4 separate regions of the Homo sapiens genome follow, and regions 2, 3 and 4 are each linked to region 1. Evidence: fine-mapped expression QTL. A gene starts in region 1. Each other region holds a variant in brackets. All regions are shown on one strand. Distances are between the middles of the regions. Region 1 holds the start of HIF1AN (hypoxia inducible factor 1 subunit alpha inhibitor). Region 2 overlaps WNT8B (Wnt family member 8B). Region 3 has its middle 29 kb from the start of HIF1AN. Region 4 overlaps SEC31B (SEC31 homolog B, COPII component).

What was found. PIP is the estimated chance that this variant, and not a neighbour inherited with it, causes the effect.
Region 2: its variant is fine-mapped to the expression of HIF1AN in tibial artery (GTEx, PIP 0.97).
Region 3: its variant is fine-mapped to the expression of HIF1AN in lung (TOPMed, PIP 0.91).
Region 4: its variant is fine-mapped to the expression of HIF1AN in whole blood (INTERVAL, PIP above 0.99). The same link has a PIP of 0.9 or more in subcutaneous fat.

Annotation. Positions count from the first base shown.
Region 1 is chr10:100,532,791-100,540,930 of GRCh38, reverse strand. It overlaps HIF1AN (hypoxia inducible factor 1 subunit alpha inhibitor), which reads right to left and starts at 4,988. Exons shown (of 8, transcript NM_017902.3): 1 at 4,796-4,988; 2 at 4,270-4,520; 3 at 149-297. The coding sequence starts at 4,972. RefSeq lists enhancers at 5,009-5,068, 5,139-5,228.
Region 2 is chr10:100,472,395-100,480,394 of GRCh38, reverse strand. It overlaps WNT8B (Wnt family member 8B), which reads right to left. Exons shown (of 6, transcript NM_003393.4): 2 at 1,310-1,343; 3 at 383-521. Among named protein-coding and RNA genes, the nearest start is that of WNT8B, 13 kb to the right of the region's middle. The variant C/AAATC (reference allele first, on the strand shown) is at 3,802.
Region 3 is chr10:100,560,710-100,568,849 of GRCh38, reverse strand. No RefSeq gene overlaps it. Among named protein-coding and RNA genes, the nearest start is that of HIF1AN, 29 kb to the right of the region's middle. RefSeq lists enhancers at 5,665-6,302, 6,305-6,354, 6,465-6,544, 6,303-6,941. The variant CAAAT/T (reference allele first, on the strand shown) is at 3,606.
Region 4 is chr10:100,500,798-100,508,937 of GRCh38, reverse strand. It overlaps SEC31B (SEC31 homolog B, COPII component), which reads left to right. Exons shown (of 26, transcript NM_015490.4): 6 at 887-1,030; 7 at 1,371-1,513; 8 at 2,518-2,617; 9 at 2,737-2,898; 10 at 3,443-3,577; 11 at 6,454-6,684. Among named protein-coding and RNA genes, the nearest start is that of SEC31B, 15 kb to the left of the region's middle. RefSeq lists a silencer at 2,159-2,359. The variant A/G (reference allele first, on the strand shown) is at 4,691.

The DNA.
Region 1 (8,140 bases):
TATTATGTTTCTTTTAGAGCTGAGTAGGCTGAGGCTTAAGAAAGTGAAGTGGCTTGTTCAAAGTCATGGAGCTAATAAGCGGTGAAGACAGGATTAGAAATCAGGTTCATATGACTCCAAGCCATGCTGCTTTTGAAAGATTTCTTACCTTCCATGCCAATGAGCAGCAGGTTAGAGGTAAGCTGCCCCCAGCCACGCTTTCCCTGTTGCTTATTAATCCAGTTCCAGTTAAAACCTAAGAAGTCCATGACAATCTTCCTGCCCACAGTGTCATTGAGCGTTTGCTGCAGATACAACCTATGTTCCCCAAGAAGAAAATCCTATTAGTGCATGCACACACAGCCCCTGGCATGGCCTCTCCACATCTGAAAATCCAAGCCCAAATCCATACCAGCATCTCCCACAGAGAACAGATGTAGTCAGGCAAATTTTAGCCAACATGGATTCTCATACAACTGAATTCTTACTTATCCTTCATTGAGTTATGTTCAACACCAAATTTTTTAATTTACTGGTTTTTCTTTGTTTTGTTTAAAGAAACAAGGTCTCAATATGTTGTCCAGGTTGGTCTTAAACTCTTGGGCTCAAGCAATCCTCCTGCTTCTGCCTCCCAAAGTGCTGGGATTACAGGTGTGAGACACTGCATCTGGCCCCCAAACTTTTTCTTTAAAGAAGTGATGCTTAACCTTTTTTGGGTCACAGAATGACTCCTTTAAGAATCCAAAGAGTAGGAGGGTGAGATGAAAAATAAAATTAAAAAAAAAAAAAAGAACCTGGAGAAGAAGTCCCAGCTACTCAGGAGGCTGAGGCAGGAGAATCACTTGAACCTGGGAGGCAGAGGTTGCAGTGAGCTGAGATCGTGCCATTGCACTCCAGCCTGGGTGACAAGAGCAAGACACCATCTCAAAAAATATAAATACATAAATAAATAAATAAAAGAATCCACGGAGGTTCCCCATAAAAATGCACATACACCCAGAACTTTCACACAATTTCAGACTCCTAGAAGCCTATCCACAGACCCTAGAATGATGAATCAGTCTCACTCCAGAGACTCGCAGAGCCTGAGACATCTCCGTTGGCCCTTGATGACCACTGTGGTAAATTGTATTACTGTTCACCAAGAGCTGGTTCCCTCAGTGTGCGAGTTTTCTTTCACATCCCCTTGAAGCCAGGCTTGCTTATTTACGCTGCTCTGGCCAAGGAAATGTCCACAGAAGCGACTTGTGTTGTTTCCAACTGTAATTTAAGAACAAGTTACCACTACCACATCTCTTTCCTTCTGCCACAGCAACTCCAAAGTTCTAGATAGTAGCTGCTGGGGCAATCTGGGTGCCAGAGCAAGTAAGATGATGTAAAGAACAATATGACATTACCCATGATCAACATGTAGTAAGTGAGAAATAAGCCTCTGTTGTTTCTAGCCCGAGCTCTGGCTTGAAGCCTAGTTTATCTTAACTGATTCAGCCACCTATCCTGTTGCAGCCTTCTACAGCTAAAGTAAGGAAGATAGCTTATTAGGTAAAGGCCTCAGGCTCCTAACATACCTGAGGAAGGTCATAAGTTACTTAAGAGATATGAAAACCCAGACACACTTGAACAAGCCCACAAGAGACATTTAATAAGTGTGCAAACCTAAAAAAAAGACAGAAGCATCTCTGTCCTGGTCCTGAGATCATTATTTCAAAAGGCTCAAAGAGGCCAGGTGCGGTGTCTCACGCCTGTAATCCCAGCACTTGGAGAGGCCAAGGGAGGTGGATTGCCTAAGCTCAGGAGTTCGAGACCAGCCTGGGCAACATGGCAAAACCTTATGTATTTAAATAAATAAATTGGTTATTAAAAATACACAAAATTAGCTGGGCATGGTGGTGGCAGCACATGCCTGTGGTCCCTGCTACTTGACAGGCTGACGTGGGAGGATCGCTTGAGCCTGGGAGGTGAAGGTTGCAGTAAGCTGAGATCATGCCACTGCACTCCAGCCTGGGTGACAGAGCAAGACCCTGTCTCAAAAAAAAAAAAAAAAAAGAAAGGTTCAAAGGCATCTCATCTCACTGCCTAGAATCACAATGTTTAAGGCAATGTTAATCAGAAATCTTTTTTTTTTTTTTTTTTGAGACGGAGTCTCACTGTCACCCAGGCTGGAGTGCAGTGGCGCAATCTTGGCTCACTGCAACCTCTGCCTCCTGAGTTCAAGCAATTCTCCTGCCTCAGTCTCCCAAGTAGCTGAGACTACAGGCACGTGCCACCATGCCCAGCTAATTTTTGTATTTTTAGTAGAGACGGGGTTTCACCACGTTAGCCACGCTGGTCTCGAACTCCTGACCTCAGGTGATCTGCCTCCCGAAGTGCTGAGATTACAGGTGTGAGCTACCATGCCCAGCCTTAATAGGAAATCTTGATGAGTTGGAAACACTACCTTTGTAGGAACATGAAATCCTCAAGACTCAATGCAACGCTCCCCAAAGATAATAATTATATATTCACCCAAAAAATATGCAAGTAACTTTGAAAGAGTCAGTGATACTGCCCATATATGAATCTAAACAATATTATGATTACACCAGAATGGTTAATGCTCAAAATAGCTCAGAGGATCCTAATACATTTCACCCCATAGTCGCCACAACCTGTCCAATCAGGTTGAAGTGAAGCTGACTGGTGAAGCTGCTCGGTGCTAAAGTCAGCTGATAGGGTAAAACTTCCAAACAATTAAAGATTTTCCTTGAAAACTCTTTAATCACCCATAAAGTACAGATTACACTCATTCTTATGCAAAATGCTCTCACTATGGGACACAAGAAACTTCAAGCGACTGAAGAACCACAAGATTCACATATCTTATGCTTATTCTTGGGTATATGTTCATTCAATGGAATTACACACTCCAACAGCATCATTTAAATCAATCTTTCTCTCAATGTTGGGTGTGTGTATATGGAAGTGTGCACACACACACTGTGTTAAATTTTAGAAAATTAATGCATGAGATAACTGAACCAATATATTAAGACATCATGGACAGATCGACCACAGTTCATATCTTGGAAACTCTTCTGGTCAAAAATCCCATCATTATGACAACTGCTAAGTGTTAAGAAGAAGAAAAAAAGATATTTCAAATCCATTCACTTAGCCACAGACTGCTGATAAGGAGTCAGGAACAGGAGTGAGTGAAGCAAGAGACTAGAGAGAAACCCAGGGTTGGACACCAAATGCGAGAGGGTAATTCACCGTGAAGTACTGAGCGAAAGCAATTCCCCAGAGGCAGTGTTATAGTGTGGGACTGAATACTGTCTCGGACCTACATAAGAGGCTGTCCTCATAAGCAGGAATAAAAGCAGAGAGGAAGAATCACTGTCTTGTGTGTCTTGTGTTGCTGTTGTGATAGGAAAAACAAATTTAATCTGATCTTCCCTAAGCTAGAGAATCCTAACCTTCTTTACTGCAGAATCACAACAAACTATACAACTTTTCAGGTTGAACTATCCTCAGTCATCACAATACTTAAGGACAATGGCTACAAACAGGCATTTTCAGAGCTAAATCCAGTGACAAACATTTTTGTTTGGCCCCCTGCAACTTTTTTTCTTTAAATCTGATTTAGTTGCTCCATTTAAAGTCAAAAGATTTTAAATAAAAATCCTGATTTTGAACTTCTCTTGAAAATCGGAATATCTCCCAACCCTAGAACTGCACTCCAAAACTGAAGCAAGCAGAGTCAAGTAATGACCTCTCACCATGGTTTTTTGTTTTAGTTTTTAATTTTGCAGAGACTAGCTCTCACCACGTTTCCCAGGCTGGTCTTGAACTCCTGGACTCAAGCAATCCTCCCACCTCGGCCTCCCAAAGTGCTGGGATTACAGGCATGAGCCACCCCCGCCGGCCTTGGCTTCTCACTTTGAACAAGGCTTATGCCTTCAGCCTCATCACTGATTTCACACAGACGATATTACTCCTTCCATTCACCTGCCTGACCCTTCTAGGCAACTAACTCTTTATGAGGAAGAAGATGGGAACCCAGAGATTCATAGCTCAAGTTTAATCATTCCCTCATCCCTCAAGCTACAGAACTAGCTGGCTGTAGCACCAAGAACCACTAAGAACTCAAACCCCTTAAAGGCTGGAAGACCAGACTACTCCTTCAACTGGAATCCAGAGATGGGAGAGGCCAATCTCTAATTGACCCAATTCTGCCACACCTTCAAACAAGTATAGGAAAGAAAAATGAGTGTCCTAAATCCAACAGAAAATTAAGCTTTCGGAATTTACCTCTCTTCCCCTCCTCGCTGCTGTATATCCTGCAGTTTCTCAACGAACTCATGAAATTTCATTTCTTCCCTGTTGGACCTCGGCTTAAAGTTCTGGAAATTGGCCATCTTCTTCTCATCATAGTACAAGAACTTGTGGGTGCTGGCACTGTACACAGAGAAGTCTCCATTGCCAATATTCTCTTGCAGGTATTCAAGGTCCCATTTCAGGGCAGGATACACAAGATTTGTGTCGGTCAGCACCACAGGCTCCTAAATGAAAACAACAGGTGAAAAACACCAAATGAAGTAATGCCAAGGAGCCGGTGGGTTGGCCTCCATGATCCCAACTACTTCTCAACTTCAGAATAATTTCTCCTGTTAATCAGCACGAACCCCTAAGTTCCGTATCTCCTCGCCTTTCTCTCCATCTTCCCATAGGCCCTAGTCTAGAGCCCTGCCAGTCTCCCATCTCTTTCACCATTCACCTCTGACCTCTCAACCGGGTACCTTCCTCCTCTCCCTTTAGACGCGGCCCCGCCCCCCACCTCATTCTCAATAAGCTCCTCTGCCCGGGGGTCGCTCTGACTCAGACGCGGAATGGGCCTAGTCGGGAAGCTATAACTGCGCAACTGGGATTCATCCCAGGCGGGGCCGAGGGCTCCAGCCTCCTCCCGGGGCTCTCCAGAGCCAGAGGCCACAGCCTCCGCCGCTGTCGCCGCCATCTCCGCCGCCAGGGACGGCCCCCACCGGAACCGGAAGCTCCGCCTATTCCGGACCCCAAAAAAAAAAAAACAAAAAAACCACACACCCAACGGAAACCATAGAGATGAGCTGCGAGAGAGAGCGGTCCAGAGACATAAAGAACGCGGAGCCGAGGCCTGAGGGTGCGCCTCCTAATGGTAGTATGCAGCTCTACATCCTAGGCTCCACTGCTGAAGAAATGGGGCTAGACACTAGTCCCACGGAATAGGGACGACCTGGTAGAGCAAAACACAAAAAAAGTTGCCCCATGTGCCCGAGTCTACACAAGAGTCAAAGAAGGAAGCAAGTTCAGTTAGGCATTAAACTTTACACTCATGAATGGGGAGAAAAGCAAACTCTTGACCCACCTAAAGAAGTCAGAAGGAAAAGCAGTGATCACATTGGTAGATGTAGAGCAAAGGCTGACTGAAGGCTTAGGCAAAAGATATACAGCAAGTTGAATTCTTTCAAAATCAAAGACAGTTTTCTTTTGTTTAGCATCATTTGATTTTTCTGCCTATATCACCATGTCTCCTACTTGAATATATGTTTGCCGTGAATCGAATGTTATTAGAGGCCAACCATGGACATCTCACATTTTCAAACAATCTATACTGATTATAAAAGGCCATATTAATACCTCTATTGCTTACTTGGACAGTTCTTATGGCTGGCTGTGAGAGGCCCAATTCTAAGATGTATCCCAAGATTTGTACCCTACGGTGTACACATCCTGTATACATTTCTCCCCTTAAAAGAAAACACGACTGTGAATATGATAGAGCATCACTCCTGTAATTAGGTTAGCTTATATGACAAGGATGTAATTAAAGTCCCTAATCAATTAACTTTAAGGCAGTCAAAAAGAGGTGATTTATCCTGGTGGGCTTCATCTTATCACTCTAGCCCTTTAAATCAGGGCTAGAGGTCAGAGACAGAATCTAAGAGATTTGAAGCCACAGCACAGCTGTCCTGTTCACCTTGAAGGAGCAAACTGCCATATGGCAGGAAATGGCAGGTGGACTCTAGGAGCTGAGAAAGGCTCCTGGGTGACAGCCAACAAGAAAGTGGGCACCTTAATCCTACAAATGCAAGTAACTGAATTCTGGCAACAACCACTGAACTTGGGAAAGGACACACACGGAGCCTCAGATGAGATCGCTAACCCAGCCAACACCTTGATTTCAGCCTGATAAGACCCTGAGCTGAGGACTCAGCCAACCAGTACCTGGACTCATGGAATATGTGAGAAAATAAATTGGTGTTTTGGGCTGCTAAATTTACAGTAATTTGTTATGCAGTAATAGAAATGAATGCACTGGCTTAACTATGTAATTATGCTACATAGTAACCATGCTACACCAAACCGATAATAGGGCTACCTCTGTGGAAGTGTTTGAGGCTGCAGGGGGCAATCAAGGCTTTCATTTTATCTGCAGTGTTTGAATTTTTTTTTTTTTTTTGAGCTAGGGTCTCACTCTGTCACCCAGGCTGGAGTGCAGTGATGCAATCTTGGTTCACTGCAACCTCCACCTCCCCAGCTCAAGCAATCCTCCTACCATAGCCTCCCAAGTAGCTGGGACTAAAGGCACACACCACCATGCCGGACTAATTTTTTTTCCTTCTGTAGAGAAAGGGTTTTGCCATGTTGCTCAGGCTGAATGTTTGAATTTTTACAAGAATGTATTAATTCATAACCTTGGGAATTAAAAATAAATTAGGCCAGGCATGGTGGCACATGCCTGTAATCCCAGGACTTTTCAAGGCTGAGGCAGGAGGATTACTTGAGCCTGGGTGTTCCAGATCAGCCTGGGCAACATAGCAAGACCTCATCTCTACAAAAAATTTTAAAAATTAGCTCGGTGCGTTGATGCATGCCTGTAGTCCCAGCTACTAGGGAGGCTGAGGTAGGAGGATTGTTTGAGCCTGGGAGGTGCAGGCTGCAATGAGCCATGATCATGCCACTGCACTCCAGCCTGGATGACAGAGCAAGATCCTGTCTTACTAAAAATAAATAAATTAATTAAGATCAAGAAGATTAAAAGAACTAAAATCAGTAATGAAACAGGGATATTACTGCTGACTTTACCCCCCAAAAAAAGCATATAAGGACATACTGTAAACAATTGTATGTCAAAAAATTACAGAACCTAGATGAAATGGACAGATTCCTAGAAAGGCACAAGCTATAATAGCTGATTCAAGAAGAAATGGAAAATCTGAATAGACCTGTAACAAGAGATTGAATTAGGAATCAAAAACATCCCATAAAGAAAAGCCCAGAAACTGGGCATGGTGGCTTACATCTGTAATCCCTACACTTTGGGAGGCAGAGGCAAGCGAATCACTTGAGCCCAGAAGGTCGCGACCAGACTGGGCAACATGGAGAAACCCCATCTCTACCAAATCCCCCCAGCCAAAAAAAAAAAAAAAAAAAAATTAGCAGGCATGGTGGCACGCCTGTAGTTCCAGCTATTCGGGAAGCTGAAGTGGGAGGATCACTTGAGCCCGGAATGTGGAGGTTGCAGTCAACTGAGATTGCACCACTGCACTCCAGCCTTTTGAGACAGAGCTAGGCCTTGTCTCAAAAGAAAAGAAAAGGCTGGGCACAGTGGCTCATGCCTGTAATCTCAGAACTTTGGGAGGCCGAGGTCGGGGGGACCACCTGAGGTCAGGAGTTCGAGACTAGCCTGGCCAACATGGTAAAACCCCCATCGCTATCAAAAATACAAAAATTAGCCAGGCATGGTGGTGCACGCCTGTAGTCCCAGCTACTTGGGAGGCTGAGGCAGGAGAATCGCTTGAATCCCGGAGGCGGAGGTTGCAGTGAGCTGAGATCGTGCCACTGACTCCAGCCTGGGCAACAGAGCAAGATTCCATCTCAGGAAAAAAAAAAAAGAAAAAGAAAAAGAAAAGCTCAAGACCAGATAGATTTACTGATGAATCCTACCAAACATTTTTTAAAAAATTAACACTGGTCTGGGTGCAGTGGCTCATGTCTGGAATCCCAGCACTTTGGGAGGCCACGGCGGGTGAATCACGAGGTCAGGAGACCGAGACCATCCTGGCTAAAACGGTAAAACCCTGTCGCTACTAAAAATACAAAAAAATTAGCCGGGCATGGTGGCGGGTACCTGTAGTCCCAGCTA
Region 2 (8,000 bases), 60 kb after region 1:
CTCCAAGTCACTCTCCACTTGCCCAGTATCTCTCTGCTGAGGAAGGGGCTAAGAGGTCTGAGGAATTATGACCCCTGCCTACCTCCTGATATTACTTACATTGTGAGGAGACCTTTAGCCAGCTGGGAGGCCAAGGATGGTATGGGATTGGGAGTAAGGCAAGATCCATTTGTTGAGCAATGAGAGTGTTGAGAAAGAAAGAAAAAACTCTACAGGTGGGAAAAAGGAAGTAGAAAAGGAAAAGAGAAGATCCTGGAGAGGGAGATGACCTAAGAGAAGAGAGCAGGTGAGGAATAAGGGTGTCGAGGAGGCAAGGGGCTATCCCTGGGGCTCTAACCTGTGACCAGAGGGTCCAGGGAGCTGTGGCTGAGGTTTTTCTTACCACTGCGAAGCCCACCATGGCTGGACAGCTGCAGGGCTCTCTCAGGGCAGTTCCAGCGGTCCCAGGCAAACTGATACTTGCATTCTTCAATACCACTCTGGGCACCAGCTGCCACACTGCTGGAGTAAATCAGGTAAGCCTGTAGGGACATAGGGGTAAAAATTCAGACTGAACTTAGGAGGCATTTACCCTAAACTGACCAAACAGCCCTCTTCCTGCTCACTCTCCCATCCCTCCAAAATAATGGAGTAAGCCTTTAAATATGCTGTCTCATTTGACATCACAAATAACTTGTGAAATAGGCACTATATTATAGATTAGGAAACTGAGGCCCAGGGAGTGAGCTAAAGTAATTTCCCCAAAGTCCCAGAGCTAGCAAATGGCAGAACTAGAAATGAAACTCAGTTTTATCAGACTCTAGTCCCTATTATCCTTTATTCACCTTTCTTCACTATACTATCCTGTCTCTCCAAAATGAGCCCAAATCACCTAATTCATGAAATTTAAGGAGTTCTCATCACATGACCATCTTAGAAAACAACATTTTGGAACTGAAAATGCCCATGAATGTAAAGATCATGTAGTACAATTCCAGCATTTTAAACATGGGAAACTGCATCCCACCACGGGGCACTGAGAAGGATGTGTGACTTTGCAGCCTGACACCTATAAAAGGCTGTTGACTTTTATGGCTCTGGAAATTCTAGCCATAAATTCAGTGCTCCTGCGTTCTTATCTTGGCGCTGACAGTGGTTTGCTATGTGGTTTTAGATGTGTCCCTAACACCCTCTGGGTCTCAATCTTTCTATCTGTAATGTATACAGCATAATAAAATATGTGGATATAATGAAAAATCTGCATTTATCATCTTTAGTCAACAGGCTAAGATTAGTGAAATCCATATCAATTAATGGAATTTGTTCTTACCTTTGGACCAGTCATCAGGAAATTGTTCACCGACCTATAAGGGAAAAAAAAAACAAAAACAGAATATAATGCAGAGACACCAACTTGTTTCTGCTTCCAAGAGTGGTAAGAATTACTTCAGCACATGTCATTAATAGGAAGAAAGGGAAACTAGTTTTACCCAGGAAACACTGTGCATAACAAACCTACTAAAGATGATTTACAGCCAGGTGGGGTGGCTCATGCCTGTATTCCCAGCACTTTGGGAGGCTGAAGCAGGTGGATCACTTGAGGTCGGGAGTTTGAGACCAGCATGGCCAAACATAGTGAAACCCCGTCTCTGCTAAAAATACAAAAATTAGCGGGGCATGGTGGCAGGCGCCTGTAGTCCCAGCTACTCAGGAGGCTGAGGCATGAGAATCACTTGAACCTGGGAGGTGGAGGTTGCAGTGAGCCGAGATTGCGCCACTGCACTCCAGCCTGGGCGGCAGAGCAAAATTCTGTTTCAAAACAAAAAAAAAAAAACACACACACACATAAAACTTAGTAGAAAAAACATGAATAAAAGTAGTATCATTTCCTTGCATTGTTAAAGCCAGGTAAAATTTCCAGTACCATATACCTGATAGTGATGGTTGCTGATTATTCTGCCATGAAGTGGGGGAGAGAACTAGCATTAACTCCTGACTATGTTCCTTATGCTCTACTCTCGGTATTTTACATGTTGATCTTGTTAAATCCTTACTGTCTCAGGCATTATTATCTCTATTTTGCAGACAGGAAATCTGAGACTCCAGAAAAGTTAAACGTGTGTTCAGGCTCACCCAGCTAATAAGTGAGTGAAGCAGGATTTGAATCCACATTCATCTGACTCCGTGGGACGTTAGAAGGATACTTCTCTAATTAGGAAGAGGTAAACAAACAGTGGAATATCTCTCTAGGGATTGAGTCATAATAAAACTCTAAAAATAAGTAATGCGATTTGGAAAAATGGTTTGGCTGCCCCTTTTAAAACTAAAAATGGGCTGGGCACAGTGGCTCACGCCCATAATCCCAGCACTTTGGGAGGCTGAGGCAGGTGGATCACCTGAATCCAGGAGTTCAAGACCAGCCTAGGCATCATCATGGCAAAACCCCGTCTCTACTAAAAAAAAAAAAAAAAAATAGCTAGGCATGGTGGTATGCGCCTGTAATGCCAGCTACTCAGGTGGCTGAGGCACAAGAATCGCTTGAACCTGGGAGGCAGAGGCTGCAATGAGCTGAGATTGCACCACTGCACTCCAGCCTGAGCAACAGAGTGATATTCTGTCCCAAAAAAAAAACAAAAAAAAACTAAAAATGAACTTGTCATATGACTTAGCAATTGCACTCTTGGGCATTTATCCCAGAGAAATAAAGACTTACTTTCACTCAGAAATTTGTACCTGGATGCTCATAGCCACTTTATTAATAATAGTCAAAAATTGGAAACTACCCAATGTCCTTCAAAGGGTAGTTTAAAAAACTGTGGCCGGGTGCGGTGGCTCACGCCTGTAATCCTAGCACTTTGGGAGGCCAAGGCAGGCAGATCATGAGGTCAGGAGATCGAGACCATCCTGGCTAACATGGTGAAACCCTGTCTCTACTAAAAATACAAAAAATTAGCCAGGCGTGGTGGTGGGCACTTGTAGTTCCAGCTACTCAGGAGGCTAAGGCAGGAGAATGGCGTGAACCTGGGAATGGAGCTTGCAGTGAGCCAAGATCGCGCCACTGCACTCCAGCCTGGGTAACAGACCGAGACTCCAACTCAAAAATAAAATAAAATAAATAAATAAATGAATAAAAAATAAAAAACTGTGGTACATTCATACCATGGAATATTACTCAGCAATAAAAAGGAATGATACGTTGATACATGCAACAACTTGGATGAACCTCAAGGAAGTTACGGAGTGATTAAAGTCAGTCTCAGAAGGATACATACTGCATGATTCTATTTACATAACAATAGTGAAATAATAAAAATTATATAATTATAGAGCTGGAGGACAGATCAGTGGTTGCCAAGGATTTGGGATGGGGGATGGATGTGGCTGTAAAGAGTAACATGAGAAAGTCTTGGGGGAATGGCCAAATGTCTTTACTGTGGTTATACAAGGCTACACATGACAAAATTGCATAAAGCCACATACATGAGTACATGTACACACAAGTGCATGTAAAAATGGTGAAGTCTGAATAAGCTTCATGGATATCGTACTAACGTTGTAAGATGTTCACACTGGGGGAGGTTGGGGCAAGTGTACATGGGACTTCCCTGTACGTTTCTTCCCTGTACATGTCTTGCAACTCCATAATTATCTAAAAATAAAAAGTTAAATATATATGTACATATACACATGATCTGCAGGGCTAAAGACTTGGAGAATGACTTCAGTATAGGCATTTGAAAATCAGAATCTATTATCTATTATCTTTGTTTTTCCATTATAATGTGAGAAAGTAATACGGGAATCATTATGTATTGTTCCATG[C/AAATC]TGGTGTACCCCTGCAATTCTGAAGGCCAATAAGATGCTGAACATCACCAGAAAGGGGATTGGAAATGAAATAGACCAAGAAAGTTTCTTGTCAGGCCAAAAGAGCTTGGCTGACTTTCTTCATAAAAAACACATACAACACCAAAAATGTGAGTAGTTTTTGAAAACCAGTATTAACAAACTAAGAGGCTGCCATATGAGATGAAAAAGATTCTAAACGAGTTGTAATAGAATTTTAGAAAATCAAAAATACTATGAAGTCTATCAAAACTAAGGCCTATTTTTTTTTTTAGACGGAGTCTCACTCTGTCACCCAAGCTAGAGTGGTGCCATCTCGGCTTACTGCAACCTCTGCCTCCCAGGTTCACACCATTCTCCTGCCTCAGCCTCCCGAGTAGCTGGGACTACAGGCACCTGCCACCATGCCCAGCTAATTTTTTTTTGATTTTTTTTTTTTTGTATTTTTAGTAGAGATGGGGTTTCACTGTGTTTGCCAGGATGGTCTCGATCTCCTGACCTCGTGATCTGCCCTCCTCGGCCTCCCAAAGTGCTGGGATTACAGGCGTGAGCCACCGCGCCCAGCCACCAAGGCCTACTTTTTAAAGCTTGGTAGGCAACCTTAATTCAACTGAAAAGAAGCACTGCTTGATCAGGTGTAGTAGCACCAGCAAAACACAAAAATACAATTCAGAATGACTTAAATGAATTCACAATTTCCAAAGCCATTATAGGTTTGGACATGAATTTCTGATCCTTAAAGACATGTCAGAGGAGTCAGCCAGGCCCCTTTGCTTTGGGGAAAGGGGCCTGAGCTTGTTCCCACTCAGAAAGGCACTTTTTATGTTAGGAATAACATTCAAAGATTTTGGACATTACCAAGCCTGACAGAGCTAGTTCCCATTTTCCATAAGACAGAAATTATCAGGAAAGAAAACAAAACAACAAAGCAAATTGAGTGACAAAGAAAATGCTTTGCCATAGCTGGGGTGAAGAGTCTTCCTGTGAAAGGAGTCTAAGCCGGAACTACAGGGAGTAATAGACAGAGATTCTAGAGAATTCTTTCCTGGAAGATCCTACAATATGCAAAGATTTGTATGATATCCAGGTCAAGCCCAACTGATCAATGAATGAGACTTAATTGAGCACCTGTCATGGAACAACACTATAGGCCTTATTTGGACAACATTCCTATAAAGTGACTTGTGTTTTTGTTTTTTTTGTTGTTTGTTTTGTTTTGTTTTTGGAGACAGAGTCTCACTGTATCTTGCTCAGGCTTGAGTACAGTGGTGTGATGTCGGCTCACTGCAGACTCCACCTCCCGGGACTTGTGTTTTTCTGTTTGTTTGTTTTTTGAGACGGAGTCTTGCTCTGTCTTGCCCAGATTGGAGTGCAGTGGCATGATCTCGGCTCACTGCAGCCTCCGCCTCCCGAGTTCAAGCAATTCTCCTGTCTCAGCCTCCTGAGTAGCTGGGATTACAGGCGTGTGCCACCACACCCAGCTAATTTTGTAATTTTTGTAGAGATGGGGTTTCACCATGTTGGCCAGGCTGGTCTCGAACTCCCAATCTCAGGTGATCCGCCCACCTTGACATCCCAAAGTGCTGGGATTACAGGCGTGAGCCACCACGCCCAGCCAACTTGTGTTGTTAACCTCCGAGTTATTTGCAGACATATTTGAACCTTATGGCTAGCTTGTTCATATCCAAAATATCCTATATTAAGAAAAGACTCAGCTGGGTGCAGTGGCTCACGCCTGTAATCCCAGCACTTTGGGAGGCCAAGGCAGGCAGATCTTGAGGTCAGGAGTTTGAGACCAGCCTGACCAAAATGGTGAAACCCCGTCTCTACTAAAAATACAAAAATTAGCTGGGCGTGGTGATGCACCCCTGTAATCCCAGCTACTCAGGAGGCTGAGGCAGGAGAATCACTTGAACCCTGGAGGTGGAGTTTACAGTGAGCCAAGATCGTGCCACTGCACTCCAGCCTGGGCGACAGAGCGAGACTCTGTCTCAAAAAAAAAAGAAGACTGTCCTGTAGTGAGTACCAAAGGAGGAGGATCTTGTTCTTGGTCAATGAAACAATGACATGATTTCCTTTTGGGGGTAAAATATAGATTGCAGAAAACATAGTGAGTATTGTGAGAAGATGCAAAGAGAACCAAAAAGGAAGGAATTTAAGTGTTTGTATGGGTGCCACCTCTATGTGGCAGTTATGTGATTGAAGGAAAGATGCTAACAAACACTGAAGATGTAAATTTAAGATATAAATTTTGTTTAACAAATGGAGGCTGCTATATAGACAGAACATGGTAAAACAGTATACTCCCAGATGGAGGTACAAGCTTCCCATTTCCCATGAGGTTGTACAGTTGCTGACAATATTACCCAGATTCAGGACCATTCAAAGGGTTCATGACTTCCTGAACCCTCCCAGCTCTTCTCAGACATTTGCTTGAACTCTAGACTTGCATATCCAACTGTATTCTTGGCATCTCTCCTTCAGTGTTTAATACGCATCTCAAACTTAACGTGTCCAAAACTGAACTCCTGATCCTCGCTGCCATCACCCAAGCCTACCCCTTCTGTAGTCTTCTCCATCTAAGTAAAGGACTGTTCCTCCTAGTTGCTCAGACAAAAATCATGAAGAGTCACCTTTTTTTTTGTTTTTTAAGACAGAATCTTGCTCTGTTGCACAGGCTAGAGTGCAGTGGCGCCATCTTGGCTCATTACAACCTCCACCTCCTGGGTTCAAGCAATTCTTGTGCCTCAGCCTCCCAAGAAGCTGCGATTACAGGCATGCACTACCATGTCCAGCTAATGTTTGTATTTTTAGTAGAGATGGGGTTTGGCCACGTTGGCCAGGCTGGTCTCAAACTCCTGACCTCAAGCAATCCGCCTGCCTCAGCCTCCCAAAGTGCAAGATTACAGGCATGAGCCACCATGTCCAACCCATAATAGAATATTTTTTGACCATATAAAGGAATGAAGTACTGGATACAAGCTACAACATGGATGACCCTTGAAAATATCATCCTGAGTGAAAGAAGCCAGACACAAAAGGCCATAAATGATATGATTCTATCTATATCAAATGTCCAGCATAGGCAATCTCATGGAAACTGACTAGATTCACAGTTTCCAGGGACTGAGGGGAGGAGGAACGGGGAGTGAATGCTAATAAATAAAGGGTTTCTTTTTGAAGTGATTAAAATGTTCTAAAATGGATTGTGGTGAAGGTTGCACAAATCCATGAATTGGCTAAAAAAAATCATTGATTTGTTAAAGGGTGCCTTTTATAGTATGTAGATTATATTTCAATAAAGCTATTATTTAAAAATCTCACTTATTCTTGAATAAGTACCAGTGCAGAAGCCACAACCAGCACACCTTGAAGCCTCACAGCAACTTTTCTCTGTTTCATATGAAGGTTTCCCTTTCCTCTTTTATACTTAAGTATGGGCTGCCTTAATTATCTCTGTATACCCTCCAGTTCCTAATCTAGTACTTTGAACATAGTAAGTGCCTATAAAAGTGAATTGAATACAAGGATTTTGAAATAAAAAAGATAGACCATCAGATGCAGCAGAAAATGTAAGGAGAAAAAGAACTGCAAAAAGATTTTGAGAAATATAGGAAGCCTGTGGCAAGCCAGTGCTCCCACTAATTTTTTAGTGTAGTGAGCAGATGACTGTGCCACATTAGGAGATGATCAACTACAAGAGTAACAGAGTGAACACTGAGCATATGTACACAGAGGTTAGTGCTATAATCAAACCTTTAGCAAAGTTAATCTGACACACTTAGTGCTGTGCATAATTGTTATTGTGCTTCATAGTAATTAGGCATAAGTGGTAAGCGATTTACATAAATAACTGTGGTTAGTTGTGCTTTTACACTGCCAAGTCAAAATTTTACAATTGTTTCTTCTTCTTGTGTTAGCTGTCCAGTATACGTGTGTGTGTGTATACACTGATATAAAGTTTAATCATATCATGTAATAATAACTAGCATTTATTCAAGTATGTGAGGAACTCTTCTAAGTGCTTTACCTGTATCATCTTTTTAAATTTCCGTAGCAACTCCATGGGGTGGGTACTATACTTTTCACTGAGTGTTTATTCTGTGCACACGAAGTACTTTTATTTATTTATTTAGAGAGAGGGACTTGCTCTGTTGTCCAGACTCAAGAAATCTTCCGGC
Region 3 (8,140 bases), 28 kb before region 1:
ACTGAAAGCCCTATGAGGGCAGACAGTGTCTGTTTTTGCTTCCCATTGACTCCTAGGACTTGTACCTAATAGTCTTAAGGGCAGACTGTGTACTGGGCACATAGTAGGTGCTCAGTAAATATCTGCTGTGTGAATGAATGAAAAACACAAATTACATTTTTAAAAAACACTAGAGGGAGAGCTTGGCTGGATGTTAATAAGTCCTAGAATGCTAGAATTGGGAATTGGGGGAATCCTGAGTTTTTGCTCCTGCTGTGTGACCTTGGGAGAGTCCCTTCACTTCTCTGGGCCTTTCTCATCTGTAAGTGAAGAAATTGGGCTTTCAGAATGTGCTCCATGGAGCTCTAAGGGTTCTCAGGGGTGTCTAGGGCTGCTATGGGTAAAGGTTAGAGCAAGGGTAAATTTCAGCCAACGTATTTCTGCTTTTCTCTCTCTCTCTCTCTCTCTCTCTCTCTGTGTGTATGTGTGTGTGTGTGTGTGTGTGTGTGTGTGTGTGTGTGTGTGTACATTCAGAATTGAAGGTTCTAAGGTTAAAAATATCCTTGGAAACTCCTGGACTAGGTGAGCTCTAGTTCCCTTACAGAATATTACAATGCAATAGAGGCAAAAATGGTTCCCAGTCAGATAGCAGAGCACGAGCTGCTTTTTATCTGCAAAGTTATCTAAGTGGACTCCATATCTGCAGACTCAACCGAGGAAAGGAGCAATAAGAATTGAATGAGCCCAATTGGAGGAGGATTCCTAGAGGAGAGGAGTTTTCAACATCCCATGCAGATTCCTAACTCCGGTGACAGACTCAAAGAGACCAGGGAGCTGGTGGGGGAGGGAGTCGGGGCGCCACTTCTCAGAAGGGACTGTGATCAAAGCAACAGCCAAGAAAAGCCTAGTTGGGCCTGAATAGCAGTGGCAGATGATGACTGGGGGAAGTGGGAGATGCAGGGTGGCCCACACACTGTTTGAAAGCCCATATGCACTGAGGATGGCAAATAGGAAAAACTCTAAAGTCAGGTCACCTTACGGGAGCAGAGCTTTCTCCTAGGGAAGGGAATGCTGAGGGCAGAGGAGGCAGGGAATCCCCTGGAGCCAGATGAGTGAGGACACAGGCTATTTTTCTCCATGTTCCTTGAGGCCAGGGCAGAGGAAATAGCCTCAAATTGGGGGTCAAGTGTGTGTGTTGCGGGGAGGTGGAAGTCAGAGAATAGAGCCTGGAGAAATCCACTACTTTGGACCTGAGGTTGGCTGAGGTTGGGGGTGGTTCCCTGTGAACCCTAGTTCAGGGAAACGCTCTTCTCCTGCTCCCTTCCCCTCTGCAGGCCTCAGTGTTTCCGCACCCCACCACCGCCCCGTTCTCATGTACACACCCTCTTCAACTTGCCTCCTGAACCACGGCTCGGTCCACTCTCCTTGAACTCCCAAATTCCTCCCGCCCCTGAGTCATCTTCACCCTCAGCAGCTCCACTGTTCCTGGCTTCCACCCTGCTACTCTGCCAGCTCCTAGGCCTGTTCCCTGCAGCCGGCAGCGCTGGCAATGCCCTCTCCTAGTTCTCCAACCTCTCGCTGACTCTCCCAGCAGCTCTCTCCTCACTCCCTCGCTATGCAGAAGGGGCCCAGCCAGGCTTAGGATGCAGGTTTCCAGTGCTTTACCCCTCCGCTTTTTCCTATGACAAATTCGTCTGCAAGCAAGACTTCAAATTCAACTAGCAACCCCATAGGAATGACCCTCCAAGGGGCCCTATTTTATATGTGTATTGAGTGTCAATAGATGTGGAAAAATGACTCCCAAATTGGTACTTCAGTCCTAACTTCCAACTGGCATCACTAGCCCCTCACTAGACAGCTCCCAGACTCCCCAGCATCACCTGAAATTCACTGTGATCACCTTGAGTCCCCGACCAGCCCATCTCTCCCAGAATTCCTTCCCAGGTCATGCACCTGCTAGGGCCAGCCCAGCCCACTCACCACTCCTTCATCTTCACACGGAGTTTTCCTTCAAATGTGCCTCAGTGTGGTCTTTTATCTGCATGCTCCAACCCCAAACCCCAGACCAGCCCAGGTGTCTTTACCGCCTTAGGGGTTGTTCCCAATCCCCAAATGGGCCCCCTTTTTATCCCTCTCTAACCCAACCTCTTCCCTGGCTGCATGAGTGATCTCCCCAAATACATCATGTCCCTCATCCAGAACCCCATGGCTCTCCATTGCCCCTGCTTACTGTCCAGATCCCTCAGCCTGCCTCACCCCCACCCTCCCCTCCAGGAAGCCTTGCCCCCTCCTAAGTCTGATTCTTTCCAGCCCCTCACAGACCTCCAAGCTCATTTCCATACCTTTTCCAGCTGCTCCAATAGCTGGAGCTGCAACTCTTCTGAGGAGTTAAATCCCAAGCACCCTTTCCAGCTGAACTTCTCCACACTCTCAACTGGGTATGAATGGCCACTTTTAACACTCCTGGCTCCTGCCACCAAAAGTCAGTAATTCCCTGCTGCCCCACCCCATTACTCCCTCTCCCTACCCCCACAAAAAAAGTCAGTAGTTCCTCCAGGACACTGTTACAGCAAAAATGTCCCTTGTTGAGAACCACTGGTTGGATGCTACTCTCTTGCCTTTCCCCATGGGACCTTCTCTAAATGACTAATATGCCTCAGGACTTTCTTTCACCTGCCTGTAAGTCCTTAGCTTCTGGCTGGAGGCTGTAAGGAGTGATGATGATGAGGAGGAGAAGGAGGAGGAGGAGGAGGATGCTGGCAATGGCAGCACCCTCTTAAGCAGCACTTTCTATGTACTAGACACTGTTTTTTTTTTCAAATCTTCTACATATATTCATTCATTATCATTACAACCCTATGAGATAGTGTTACTATTATTCCTGTTTTTCAGATGAGAAAATTGAGGGAGAAATTAAGTAACTTGCCCAAGGTCACCTACCTAGTAAGTAGCTGATGAAAAGGCATAGCAGAAAGTCAGACTTTGGAGCCACTTCTCAGAAGGGACTGTTATCAAAGCAACAGAAAAAAAGCCTTTCGAAAACCAACTGTCACCAACTGGCTGTGTGACCTTGGCCAAGTTACTTCCCTTCTCTGAACCTCAATTTCCTAATTTGTAAAATGATAAAACAGTACCTAGTTCGCGGTGGTTTAGAAAGGACTCGTGAATATAGAACACTCCTTGGCATGAAGCAAGCACTCCCTTTCTGTACCTCCTCCTGTCCTTCCCTCCACTCATAGCCTACCTCAGATACTTAAAAATCATGACAATGACAATGCCTCACATTTGAACTCAGGCTCTTGAGTCCAGGGTCCAGGCTCTTGACCCCACACACTGCATGGCTGCCCATACTCGTCTATCGGGCCCTCCTGGGCCAGGCTCTGGCAGTTGTCCCTCCCTTCCCCAGGGAGGCCCCTCACTGTCCTCATCGTGTCCTGGCCCCTAGGCCCCTCAGCCTGGCACTGAGCCTATCATTTGTAATCAGGTCAGACCATGGCTTGCTTACTCCATCCTGCCCCAAGATGCAGCATCAGCTTCACCCAAGGCAAATCCCAGCCCAGCTGCACTGCACCTCCGCCCTACCAGGCAGTACATCACACGCCTAGATTGCTCCTTTGACTCCCAAA[CAAAT/T]TCTTCACAACAGCATTTCCACCCCTCCCTCTGTGTCCGTCCAGCCCAGCCTCACCCTGGCCACCCTTACCTGAAGAAGCCAACCTCAACCTTTACTCTTACTTTTAGGAGATCAAAACCTGGGTCCAGGTTGAACCCCATGACTTCCCCTCCTTCTCCCCATTTCTCTGAGGCTTCAACCTCCTGCAGGCCCTGTCCCCCCTTCCCTCTGGAACTCAGCTCCTTCAAGTGTCTGCTCTCTCTGGTAGCTTCCATCTCCCCCTCTCCAGTGGCCCCTTCTCCTATGTCCTCTGTCTACAGATTTGCTCCTCTTCCCCTGGCTAAAAAAGCGTTGCTGCAGTTTCCTTTTCAAAACCCCAACCTGTCTCCAGTCCTCTGTGTACTTCTCAACGGATAACCTATAGCAGTTTATACTTGCTATGCCCCCATTTCCTCTCCACCAACTCACCCTCTAACCCCTACCATTCTGCTGACCTCTTCATCCCCAAATCTAATGACCTTCACTAGGGCCTCACTCCTGTCTCCTGCACTCAAACCCCTCTTCAGAGGTGACCCTGGTTCCCACCCCTCCTGTGTCGTTCTTCCTCCCTCCCTCTCACTGAACTCCACCCTCAGTTCCACTCCTATTTACCTGGGAAATGACTCTCAGGCATGTTCACACCTACCCACCCCCCGCCCAAACCCTCTTTTCTCTCCTTTTCTCCTTGGGTGTTCTCATCTGCCTAATCCTCACTACCTCTATGAAGCTGAGCCCAACCCTGTTTCTTTCCCCTGGGTTCCAGCCTCATACCTCCTGTTGTTGCCAGATACTTTCTGTTGCAGCCAGACCCCTCTGCCCTACGAGCTCACTGTGCTCCAACAATGGTCAGAGCTGTCCTCTTCATCTCTTCACTGCCCTCCAAACCTCAGGAAATTCAGGCCTCTGTAGCTTTGCTCCCCTGAAGACCAACATGTCACAGTGTTCCATCCATATATACATATTTTGGAGACAGAGTCTTGCTCTGTTGCCCAGGCTGGAGTGCAGTGGCGCAATCTTGGCTCACTGCAACCTCCACCTCCTGGGTTCAAGCAATTCTCGTGCCCCAGCCTCCCAAGTAGCTGGGATTACAGGCATGCATCACCACACCTAGCTAATTTTTGTATTTTCAGTAGAGACAGGGTTTCACCATGCTGGCCAGGCTGGTCTCAAACTCCTGGCCACAAGTGATCTGCCTGCCTTGGCTTCCCAAAGTGCTGGGATTACAGGTGTGAGCCACCACACCCGGCCCCAATATATTTTTTCTTCATTTTCATAAATTCATAATCAGGGGGAAAAACACAAAAGATAAATTTTCCCCATTTAAAGATGCAGCTCTAGCTTCCCTCCTTCAAGGGGCCTTCTTTTATAGGCTCCTACCCACCTCTGAGCTCCCAGGTGTTCACCATCAAAGCTCACCACCCACCGCTTGACTCTGCTGTGTCTCTCCCTTCTCTAGGCAATGCACAAGTCCTGTCTCCACACCAGGTACTGGGATCCTCAGAGGCTTACGAAGCTCGGCCTTCACTTAAGGTGTCTACTCTCCAAGACCAAGCTGGGGAAGACAGCATCAGATGGTTTGTAAGTTCTCTTCCAGCTCCAATATTCAAGGATTTGGAATTTGAGGGTTCCTTCTATAACGTTCCTCTGGGAAAGTCTTCAGAGTGTCTTCAGTTAGCAGATATCCACATGTTTGTGAGCTGCTGACAAGAGTGCCCCCCTTTTGGGGAGTTGAGGCCCAAGAGAAACCAAGAGGATCATAAGATACTGTGTGTGGATGTAGGGGTGAGGGAAGTGTCCTGGAGACGAACTCCCTTGAAAATCTCCAATATGCTAACCTACACACACACACACACACACACACACACACACACACACACACACACACACAGTTCACCTAAACCCCCTGGAGGCAGAAACGTTCCCCTAGAAGCTCTTAAGGAGCATCCTCTTCCCCTCTTTCTCCAAAAAAGGGAATAGTCAGTATCCTGGGGCTCAGTGCCTCACCACAAACCACAAAGCATGGCTGCCCCCATGGGGCTTCACTGAGCATGGCAGCCTCCATTACCCGTCCTCCTGCCCCCATCAGGACAGAACCAACCTCCATCTCCAGCTCTCCAAGAAAAGGCCAACGGACTCCGCCGTTCCTCCAGTTCTTTCCCCTCTCCCACTCCTCCCAGTAGGCTGAGTCCACTCCCTGCAGCAATCCATCACCCTCAACACGCCCGTCCACCCACACCCCCACCTCCCCGCTCCTGAGCGGCACCCACACACATGGACGGTCCTCGGTTCATCTCGCCCTAGGTCTCCAACGCCCATCTGGAGCTTCCAGGGTGCGCCCGGATCCCAGCCCCGGCCGCCTCCTCCCGCCACCCGGGCCAGAGCTGCCTGAAGAGCAAGCCGGTGTCCTCGGCAGCCCCGCCCCGGGCTCTGAGGACTAGATCTCATCCCTAAACGAGGTCAGAGGACCACGGACCTCAGACTCACCTGGGAAACTGGTCACAAATACAAATTCCTGGGCCCCATCCAGAACTGCCGAATTATTCTGGCGGTGGAACCCGAAACCCGCCCTGCCTGCAGCCCCTCCGGCGAGCCCGAAACGGTACAGACCCAGGGCCCCGTCCGACGCCCGACCCCTCGCCCCAGTGCCCCCGAACGTGGCCGCCACTCTGCTTTGAACAGCGAAGGAACTCGAGACAGAGCCGAGCTGGGCTGCGGCCAGCCCACGGCCAGTCGGCGGAAGGTCGGGGGCCCCAGGCTCTTGCGCGGCCCCACAGACCCTTGCGTCAGAAGAGTGGCCCCCCGCGCCATGGGCTCTGCGGCCAGGAGGCCACGTGCGACGTCGCTCAGGCCGGAACACGTGGCTCCAGCAGAAGCCACATCTGGATTCTACACGTGCTGGGCTGCGGGCGAGGTTCTTCCACACCACAGGCGTCTTCTTGCCACCCAGGAGACCTGGGCCGGCAGCTTCCCTGCAGTGCGGGGCCCACGGGCTCCCCGCAGTGGGGAGTGCGAGAAACGCAACTGCGACCTCGCCGCGCACTCCGCTTCCGCCATTGGCTCAGGATCCCTGCGTGGAGCGAGGGCGCCACGCTGCGACTGCAGCAGGGACGGCACGTCCCAGGGGAGAGCGCGGGAAATATGGTGCGTGAGGTCCCAATTTCCAGGTTCCCTCCCACCTCAATGACTCGTTTTATAGCCGCCCCCTCAGGCTGACCTCTACCCTAGACCCCGTCTAACTAATCGCTAATCCCCTGACCTCAGGAAGGCCAGGGATGAGAGTCACAGGCCAATGCCTCTGGGCAGCCATAGGAAGTGAGGAAATGCAGACCCCAAATTTTCCCCTAAATCCTAGAAATATGCTCCAGATAAAAGTCTTTGCCTGGGTTCAGATTCTAGACTCCTGTCCTTCATTCCAGAAATTTCAGCACCATAGAATCACTGGCAAGTCTCGGACAGTATTCAGGCCCACTGCCATGGTGGCTTCCTATCAAAAATATTCTCATTTGTCACTGACCTTAGCAGGGGAAAAGACCTCAGAATTGGACCCAGTGCTCAGAGGTGGCCTGACCATCTCAGAAAGCAGTGGGGTAACACCTCCCTTGATCTGGCTGCTCCGTTTGGTTAATGCAATTCATGGCTGTGTTAGGATTTTAGCAGTCACATCACACAGTTGACTCATATTGAGCTTGCAGTCAACTAAACCCCCCAGGTCTTTTCTTCATGAACTGCTGTCAAGCTGGGCCAACCCCTACAACCGGTACTTATGTCATTGATTTTGTTTTAACCTAAGTGCAGGACTCTACATTTATCCCTGTTAAGTTTAATCTTGTTGGTTCCAGCCCAGTGTTCCAGCCTGTTGAAATCGTTTTGAATCCTGACTCTTTCATGCAAAGTATTAACTGCCCCTCCTAGCTCTATCACCTGCAAACTTGATGAGCCTGCTGCTTCGGTCAGTTGTCAATAAAAATGTCAGAGAGGACACAGGCCCAGACTGAGCCCTAAGGCATACTGCTGGAGACTTCCCTCTAGTCTAGGCTGACATGGATCCATTAATCAACCCTCACTGGGTCTGACTGTTCACCAAGCTTCCTAGCCATTTGGTTCAGATGCTTCTGCCACAACTAGATAACATGAGAGGCTTTGTCAGAAATTTGTCAGAGGCTTTGCTGGAAATTTCTCTTGCCCAGGCTGTGGCCCCCACATCAAGCTTAGGCCTTCTTTCTACCCTCCACACCCCACCATCATTTGTTTACTCATAACTTTAGGGGATTATATTTCCAATGGTGCCCCCTCCTGCATGACTTAATATTTCTGAGCTTCAGGATCACCTTGGGTGTGCCTTTGCTATTTCATATCCCATCATCCTATGCCTCCTCTGAGACCTCATTCTCTTAAATTCTCTGTCCTGCCACCTTCTCTGCCTATAAATGTGCAGTGGCCTCCCTTGCCTAAAAAGCTCTCTACTAGCTGCCCCCTTAAACTGTGGTTGGCTTCTGCCTCTGTCCTTCTTTT
Region 4 (8,140 bases), 32 kb after region 1:
TGGAGCCAATCAGAGCTCAAGAGATATCAAACTTTACCACTGGAGGGCAATAAAGCTCCACAGACTAACATGCTACCAGCCAGATAAGAGTTAGGATGGCTGGTGGGTGGAGGGTGTATATGGGGTAGTTGGTTTGTGCTCATTACTCGTTCTAAGAGTTTCTGGGAGGCAGATGAAAGTTGGGGAGAGCAAAAGACACCACAAGAAGGGATGGGAGTGCTGTTTATCACAGTAGAGCTTTCGCAGGGTTGGGTAGGGCATTGGGCCCAGCAAAGAGGGAGGAAGAGTAGGACCCCAGACATACCATTGTCCTTTTTATGGAGGGGGGGGTCAGCTTTGTTCTCCCTGTATGTGGCTCTGCCATGCAGTTGGGGGTCTGGTCTTCTGTCTTGGAGAGGCTGTCTGTCAATCTGTAACTGGGCCCATCTTTTTGCTTCCTGGCCTTTTCTCTTTCTTCTGTGCTTACAGTATCATGAGGTAAGTTAAGTTTCAATTTGATAGCATCTTGTGGTTTTTCTCTCGGCCTCACTCTCTCTTGGGGTCTTGGGTATCTGTTTTCCTCCCTCCCTCATCTTCCTCCTTCTCTCCCTCTTTTTTTGTCCTAGACAAGAGGGCTGTTTTTTAAAATCTTGACTCTATCCTCTTAGTAAAACCTTGGGTAGGAGTAAAACTTAGATGTGCCTGCCATCCCCTCTGCTTCTACACTGATACCCTAAAGGATCCTCCCTGGAAAATTCAACTCCCAGCTTCGCAACACTGTCTTAGTTTGGGTAGCCCCATGTCTATTCTTGGACTTGCTGTGGGTGGCTGGGAGCAGTGGAACAGCAGATGTCACTTTGTCCAGGGGGTGACAAGTTGTCATCTTTCTGTCCCCATCCTGCCTTAGCAGCCTCCAGAGGACATCAAGGCACTGTCTTGGAACCGGCAAGCCCAACACATTCTGTCTTCTGCTCACCCCAGTGGCAAGGCAGTTGTGTGGGATCTCAGGAAGAATGAACCTATCATCAAAGTCAGTGATCACAGCAACAGGGTGAGTATTGGAGGCCAGAACACAGGCTTGGGCTCTGGCTTCTCTCTCCTGCCTAGCAGTTAGAGCTGCTCTGCCCCAGGCCAGAGTCCTGCTTTCAGCTGTCGGACATGTGGAGTCAGCCGCTTAGCACATTTCCTATTGAGAGTGAAAACTTAGGGAAGCTAAACAGAGCTGATCTGGAAGCTTCTGCCATTCCTTACTTATTCCTGGCCATCACTCTCTGATGCCTGTGGTGTTCCCAGTCACAAAAGAGACAGAAAACTTGCTCTCAGAGTGGTCCCATTTCAACTGGGCAAAAGAGTCAGGTTACAGCACCCATTGGGATCTGCTTTGTTCACAGATGCACTGCTCAGGCCTGGCCTGGCATCCTGACATAGCCACCCAGTTAGTGCTGTGCTCAGAGGATGATCGACTTCCCGTGATTCAGCTGTGGGACTTGCGCTTTGCCTCCTCGCCCTTGAAGGTGCTGGAGAGCCACAGCAGGTAGCATCTCAGACGTCATCCATATCCTTGGGGGGATGGTGGATATAACTGGGCTGGGTAGGAGGCAATGTATCCCTCACTTTAGCTACTAAACATCCTCCCTGGCTTTAAAGCCATTCCGGTCAACATATAGTCACCCAATACCTACTCCAGCCTTAACCAAGAGGAGGCCCTTAGACCCTGAGGTTATGGAGAGGAGGCTGAGATTCCATCTAAATTCCAGAGATGGGAATGGAATGGGGTAATGAGAAATACTGGAACCAGTGTTTAGCCTCCAGGCTCTGATATGAGGATAATGTTCATTTCTTTAGGTGATGAGCTTGCCTCCTCCAGGATTTCTTCATAAAAACAACTTGACTCCTGTCTATCCTGTGGAGGCCTCTATCCAGCCTCCACAATCTCTTCTTTCTAACCAAAGGGCCATGGTGCCTTTGTATCTCCTTGGGTACCTTTATTTTTTTAGACCAGTTCTTGCTCTGTCACCCAGGCTGGAGTGCAGTAGCGTGATCAAGGCTCACTGTGACCTCGATCTCCTGGGCTCAAGTGATCCTCCCCGCTCGGCCTTGCACAGTGTTGGGATTACAAGCATGAGCCACTGTGCCTGGCCTCCTTGGGGACTTTAGATGGTTAGGTCTTTACTACCTCCTGGGCTAAAAGCACCCATAGTGATGAGTGTTTGTGTGATTCATACTGATTCATAATCTCTACTGTCTAATCAGTGAAAAGAAGCAGGTCATCCTGCAGTGATCTAAGAGAGGCAGAGTGGTACATTGCATAGTGCACAGGCTCTGAGGTTTGGTTTGGGTTCTGACTCTGCAACTGTTGGAAAGTTACTTAATTTTTCAAAACCTCATTTTATTCATTTGTAAGATAATATCAGACCATGCATTTTATAGGGCATGGATGGTCTGATATGCCCTATAAAATGTATAAAAGACATATAAGGCACCCTACTCATAGTAGGCATTCAACAAATGCTAGTTCCTCTTCCCTTCTCTTTTTAGGGGGATCTTGTCAGTGTCATGGAGCCAGGCTGATGCTGAGCTGCTGCTCACTAGTGCTAAGGACAGCCAGATCTTGTGCCGGAACCTGGGGAGCAGTGAGGTAGGCTGGCCCTTCTGTGGGCATGCTGGGATGGGAGAGAGAGGGTAGAAGAATCTCAGCTGCAGCCATGTGTTTTGGGTTTCATGGACTGTCCCTAATGGTGTGTTCCCTCATATTAGGTGGTATATAAGCTACCAACACAGAGCAGCTGGTGCTTTGATGTGCAGTGGTGCCCTCGGGACCCTTCAGTGTTCTCTGCTGCCTCCTTCAACGGCTGGATCAGTTTGTACTCTGTGATGGGTAGGAGCTGGGAAGTCCAGCATATGAGACAGGCTGACAAGGTTTGAAGGGCTTGGTAGAGAATGCTGGAGGGAAGGGGCTGTCTCTGTTTGTGGGAGAGAGACATATGGCTTGAGAAGCGGAGATATTGGAGATTGGGAGACCAGGGCCCGGGGTTTGGGAGGGCTGCACCTTTGCCCTAGTGCCCATCTTCCTGAAAGGATGTTAGTTTCTGCCACAATGTGAAGAAGGCCTTCACCTTGACTCTTGTTATTGGATGGGCCCTGTAGTATTTCAGGGACCGTGGGACCCCTTTGCTGGGACAGTTATTTCAAGAGTATGACTCTTATCTTTCTCTCTTCTATAGATCCATTTTGTGCCACACTCCATTGTAGACTTTGAATGTAGTAGTCTTTCCAAGAGCCTACTTGCATGGGAGTCCCACCCTCGCTACCACTCACTTCCCCATCCCCTGGAATATGGGAGTCTGACCTTTCTAGGTCAAATTGGGTGTCTCAAGGATTCCTCCCAAAATGGAGTTTGTAGGTGGAGTTCCTGACTAAACTGCCACTTTAGGATGGCGATGCAGGTGTCTTTTCCCCCCAGATCTCCTCTTCCTTCAGCAAAGGCCAGCCTCTCCCACCACTGCAGGTGCCAGAGCAAGTGGCACAAGCACCACTGATACCTCCCCTGAAAAAACCCCCCAAATGGATTAGAAGACCAACAGGTGTTTCATTTGCTGTAAGTGTAGTGGATGTATAGGTGTGTGTGTGTTTGTGTGTGTGTGTGTGTGTGTGTGTGTTTGTGAAGCCTACCATGTGCCCAGCATGGAGCTAAGTTTTGTAGCAGACGTATTCCCACTGCCTCTGTCTCAGAATGGATCCCACTTTACCTCTCAAGGAGAGAGTTACTATAGCTTCCTTCTCTTCACTTCACCCATTCTATATCTTCTGCCAGTCCTGTCTAAAAGGAGCTGACTGCCTTAGAACTCTTGGTTGTGGAGAAATAGCCTGAGATTCCATCTTTTCTCTAACCCTTACGTGTCTGGACTGGTAGTAAGGAACTACAAAGAAGGCAAAAAAAAAACCATTTTATTCTGTCATTTCTCTGTTCAAAACGTTTGAGCCTCCCATTGCTTTATAGACAAGGCTAAATTTGCACAGGGCTCCACTTACCTTTCCATTTCTGTCTCATTCTCATATGTTCTCTATGTTCCAGTTACATATGACTTCTTTCTGTTTTGTAAATAACTCCTCAACTCTTCCTGTCTCTGCTTGTACCCTAACCTTCAGCTTCTCTCCTGGGCCCATTGAATGCTACCACAGCCTTTCAAGGCCCCTCTCTTAAATACTATCTCCTCCTTGATGCCTGTCTTTAACCCAAGTCAAAATTAACCTCTCTCTATAATCCCACAGACTTATACTTTGGTAACGATACATTCTAACTATACTAAAGTTATTTATATACATATATGCATATTACCCTACTAAGTAATAGACTCCTTAAGGATAGGGACTATGTCTTGCTGATTTTTATATCCCCAAAGCGGTGCTTCACAAACTATTAATGTGCATCCACATCACTTGGGGATCTTATTAAAATTCAGAAACTGGTTCATTGAGTTGGAAGTAAGGCCCAAGATTCTGATTTTTCAGCAGGCTCCCAGTTGATGTCCTTGCAGCTGGTCGGAGGACTAGCACTTTGAATGACAAGGCCCTGAAGCACTTGGTACAATGCTTTAAATATTAGGTTTGAATTGAAAACAGATGTATAAAAGCGGAAGTTCTTGTTTTCAAAGCCAACGGTTTTACTGGGGAGGCAAGACTAACACATTCAATAGGCTGTGAGCTTAAA[A/G]AGAAAAAGAAGTAGGGAGGTAAAGAATTCTGAGGTCAAGAGGCCTGAATTCTTATCATAGCTCTGTCATTTATTAGCTGGGTAACCTTGAACAATTCATTTAACCTCTCAGGACTTAACCGTTCTTATCGGTAAAACAGGGATAGTGATGCCTGCCCAGAAAATTAACATGAACCACAAATAAGAATATATGTACACACTTTGTAAAACTATCAAGTACTATATAAATCAAAAGTTAAAATGGTTTTGTTTAGCACTAATCTGTGGTGTAGATTTTGTGCTGCAGAAGTCACGGTAAATAAGAATTCTGACTGGGAGAGTTCATTAGGAGGTGGATATTGGGAAAAGAAATGGTGAATAGTTAGGGAGTAAAGCAATAGTTATCAACGCCAAATAATCTGTACAACAAACCCCCATGACACAAGTTTACCATATAACAAACATGGACATTTACTGCATTGGATTGAATTTTTTTAACCTAAAGTAAAAATTAAAAAAAAAAAAAAGTTGTCGGCCAGGCGCTGGTGGCTTACTCCTGTAATCCCAGCACTTTGGGAGGCCGAGGCAGGTGGATCACCTGAGGTCGGGGAGTTCGAGACCAGCCTGACCAACATGGAGAAACCCCTGTCTCTACTAAAAATACAAAATTAGCCGGGCGTGGTGGTGCATACCTGTAATCCCAGCTACTTGGGAGGCTGAGGCAGGAGAATCGAGTGAACCTGGGAGGCGGAGGTTACGGTGAGCCGAGATTGCGCCATTATACTCCAGCCTGGGCAACAAGAACAAAACTCCATCTCAAAAAAAAAAAAAAAAGTTGTCAGCCTTGGATACACATTGGAATAACCTGAATAATTCAAAAAATACTGATGCCTAGTCCCATCCCCAGAGTTTCTGATTGTATTGTCTGGGGTGTGGCCTGGCAAGTCTGGATTGTTCTCCATGTGGTTTTAATATGCAGCCAATGTTGAGAACTGCTGGAGTAAAAAGGGTTTTTCTAAGGTCCTGTTTTGTGCCAGATGCTTTATATAAGGCATCTAATTTGGTGAGACGGATACTCCAGGTGGGGGTGTTGTGGGTAAAGGCACAGAAGCAGGAACACACCAGGCATTTTAGGGATGTGGAGCAATTATAATAAACAAGCAGGGAGAGAGATGCTGGGAAAGATAGGTTTGGCCCTGATTTTGCAGAGGTTTGTGCACTGCAGGAAGGGGAGCTTAAGCTCTTTCCTGTGGCCTTGTGAAACCACACAGGCTCCTGAATAGCAGCAGGTTGGTACAAGCAATAGAGGGATAGTCTAAGGCTTAATTAGAGGAGGGAAAAGAACAGAAGGCTAGCAAACTATTTTAGTAATCTGGGGGTACTGGCACTGGGAATGGGATGGAGGGGACCTGCATGAAAGACAGTGAACAAGAATAGGTAGGACTTTGTCGTTGCTTGGCTATAGGGGGTATGAAGACTTTGCTAATGCTGAGGTATTTAGCCCAGGTGACTGGGAGAATGGTGGTACCAGGACAGGTTAGCAGAAGGTGAGTCTTGTGTGGTGAAGTTTGAAGTGGGTGGTCCTAAGAGTGCAGAAGTGGTTTTGGTAGGGAGACGAATTCAATACTAAATTCCTGATCCTATTCCACCCCCCAGGAACTCTCTTATTTTATTTATTTCCTAGCCTAGGGTCAGCCATTAGATAGCCTTCTCTGTGAATCTGACTTAGTGTTACTTTTTGACTTGAAGGTATAACCTTTACCCTTCTTGCTTTTCCTCACCAGTTTGGAGGGAAGCTGGTTACTTTTGGCCTCCCCAGCACCCCTGCCCATCTGGTGCCACAGCCTTGCCCCCGCCTAGTCTTCATCAGTCAAGTCACCACAGAATCTGAATTCCTGATGCGATCAGCTGAGCTGCAGGAGGCCTTGGGATCAGGAAATCTACTGAATTACTGTCAGAACAAGAGCCAGCAAGCTTTACTGCAAAGTGAAAAGATGCTGTGGCAGTTCCTGAAGGTGGGAAGCCTGAAGGCTAGCTGCTCAGAAGTGTCTCCCCAAAGCCTGGAACTCCAACCTCTGTCAACTGCAGGAGAAGCACAAGCACACTGGGACCCAGATCACAGAGGCCTTAACTCCCATTAGTTTTTCCCCCACACTATACCCACCATCTAGACACAAAACGTTCACCCTTTACCAGAGGCTCAAAGGCCATTTGGGAAGAGGCTAGGAAAGATGGGGAATACACGAGATGTTTTCTTTTGTTGCTACTATGGTTGATGTCCTAGGTATTTTACCAGGGCCAAGGCAAAGACCTTCACGGTATCATGCCAAAGGGCAGATAAGGTAATGGGAAGGAAGAAAAAAGGGAGGAAAGAGAAAAAGAGGAGAAAGGAAAAACATTAGTTAGAAGGACATATTGTCATAAGAAGGCTTTGAGTTGGTTTCAAGTAACCCAAGGCAAGTCCTTGGAGTGGGTCCTAGGGTTCAGGTGCCACTGTACACTGGAGGCATGGGTTCAGTTCCAGTTCTCATTTAATTTCAAGTTTCCTGTGACACCAGGAGGAGTACTATACCTATCAAAGGAAATGAGCAAGTGAGAGATCTGAAGGAAGAAAGGCAAGTAGCTGACTGGTCAGTCAGTGGGATGATTGTGCAAGTTTTTGGAATTGTTTAGAAGAAAGCAAAAAGGATTGGGCCTGTACCAGGGCATCTGAGAGGGACTTGAAATTTGAGCTTTAGGCATAGTAGAGCTTTATGAAGGTGGACATCAGGAAGTTAGAGAAAGAGGATTTGAGAAAGATCTTGACTATACAGTGAAGCCAGAGAATGATGTGGGAAGAAAAGAATAAGAAATGATGCTTTTGTCATAAGCAGGATACAAGTTCCAGGAATGGTGAGATGGTAAAGAGAGGGAGTGGTCAGGAGTTCAGCCTTTACTCCGCTAAACAAAGGAGACAGTGGTACCTATAGGACAGAGGGACCTATAGGACAGGGCATTCTGGGTTTTTTTGTTTTTGTTTTTTTGAGACAGAGTTTCACTCTTGTCGCTCAGGCTGGAGTACAATGGCATGATCTTGGCTTACTGCAACTTCTGCCTCCCGGGTTCAAGCAATTCTCCTGCCTCAGCCTCCTAAATAGCTGGGATTACAGGCACCTGCCACCACGCCTGTATTTTTTTTTAGAGACAGGGTTTTTTTTTTTTTGTATTTTTTGTATTTTTTTTGTAGTAGAGACAGGGTTTCACCATGTTGGCCAGGCTAGTCTCGAACTCCTGAACTCAGGTGATCCACCCACCTCAGCCTCCCAAAGTGCTGGCATTATAGGCGTGAGCCACCGCGCCTGGCCAGGCATTCTGGTTTAAAAGCTACCCAAGAGCTGTCCATCATGATGGTTCCTGGTTGGGTGTGGTGAACATTTCCAAGGGAAGGGCATGGAAGGAGAAGGGTGCCCAGAGAGACTATGAGAAAGGTAT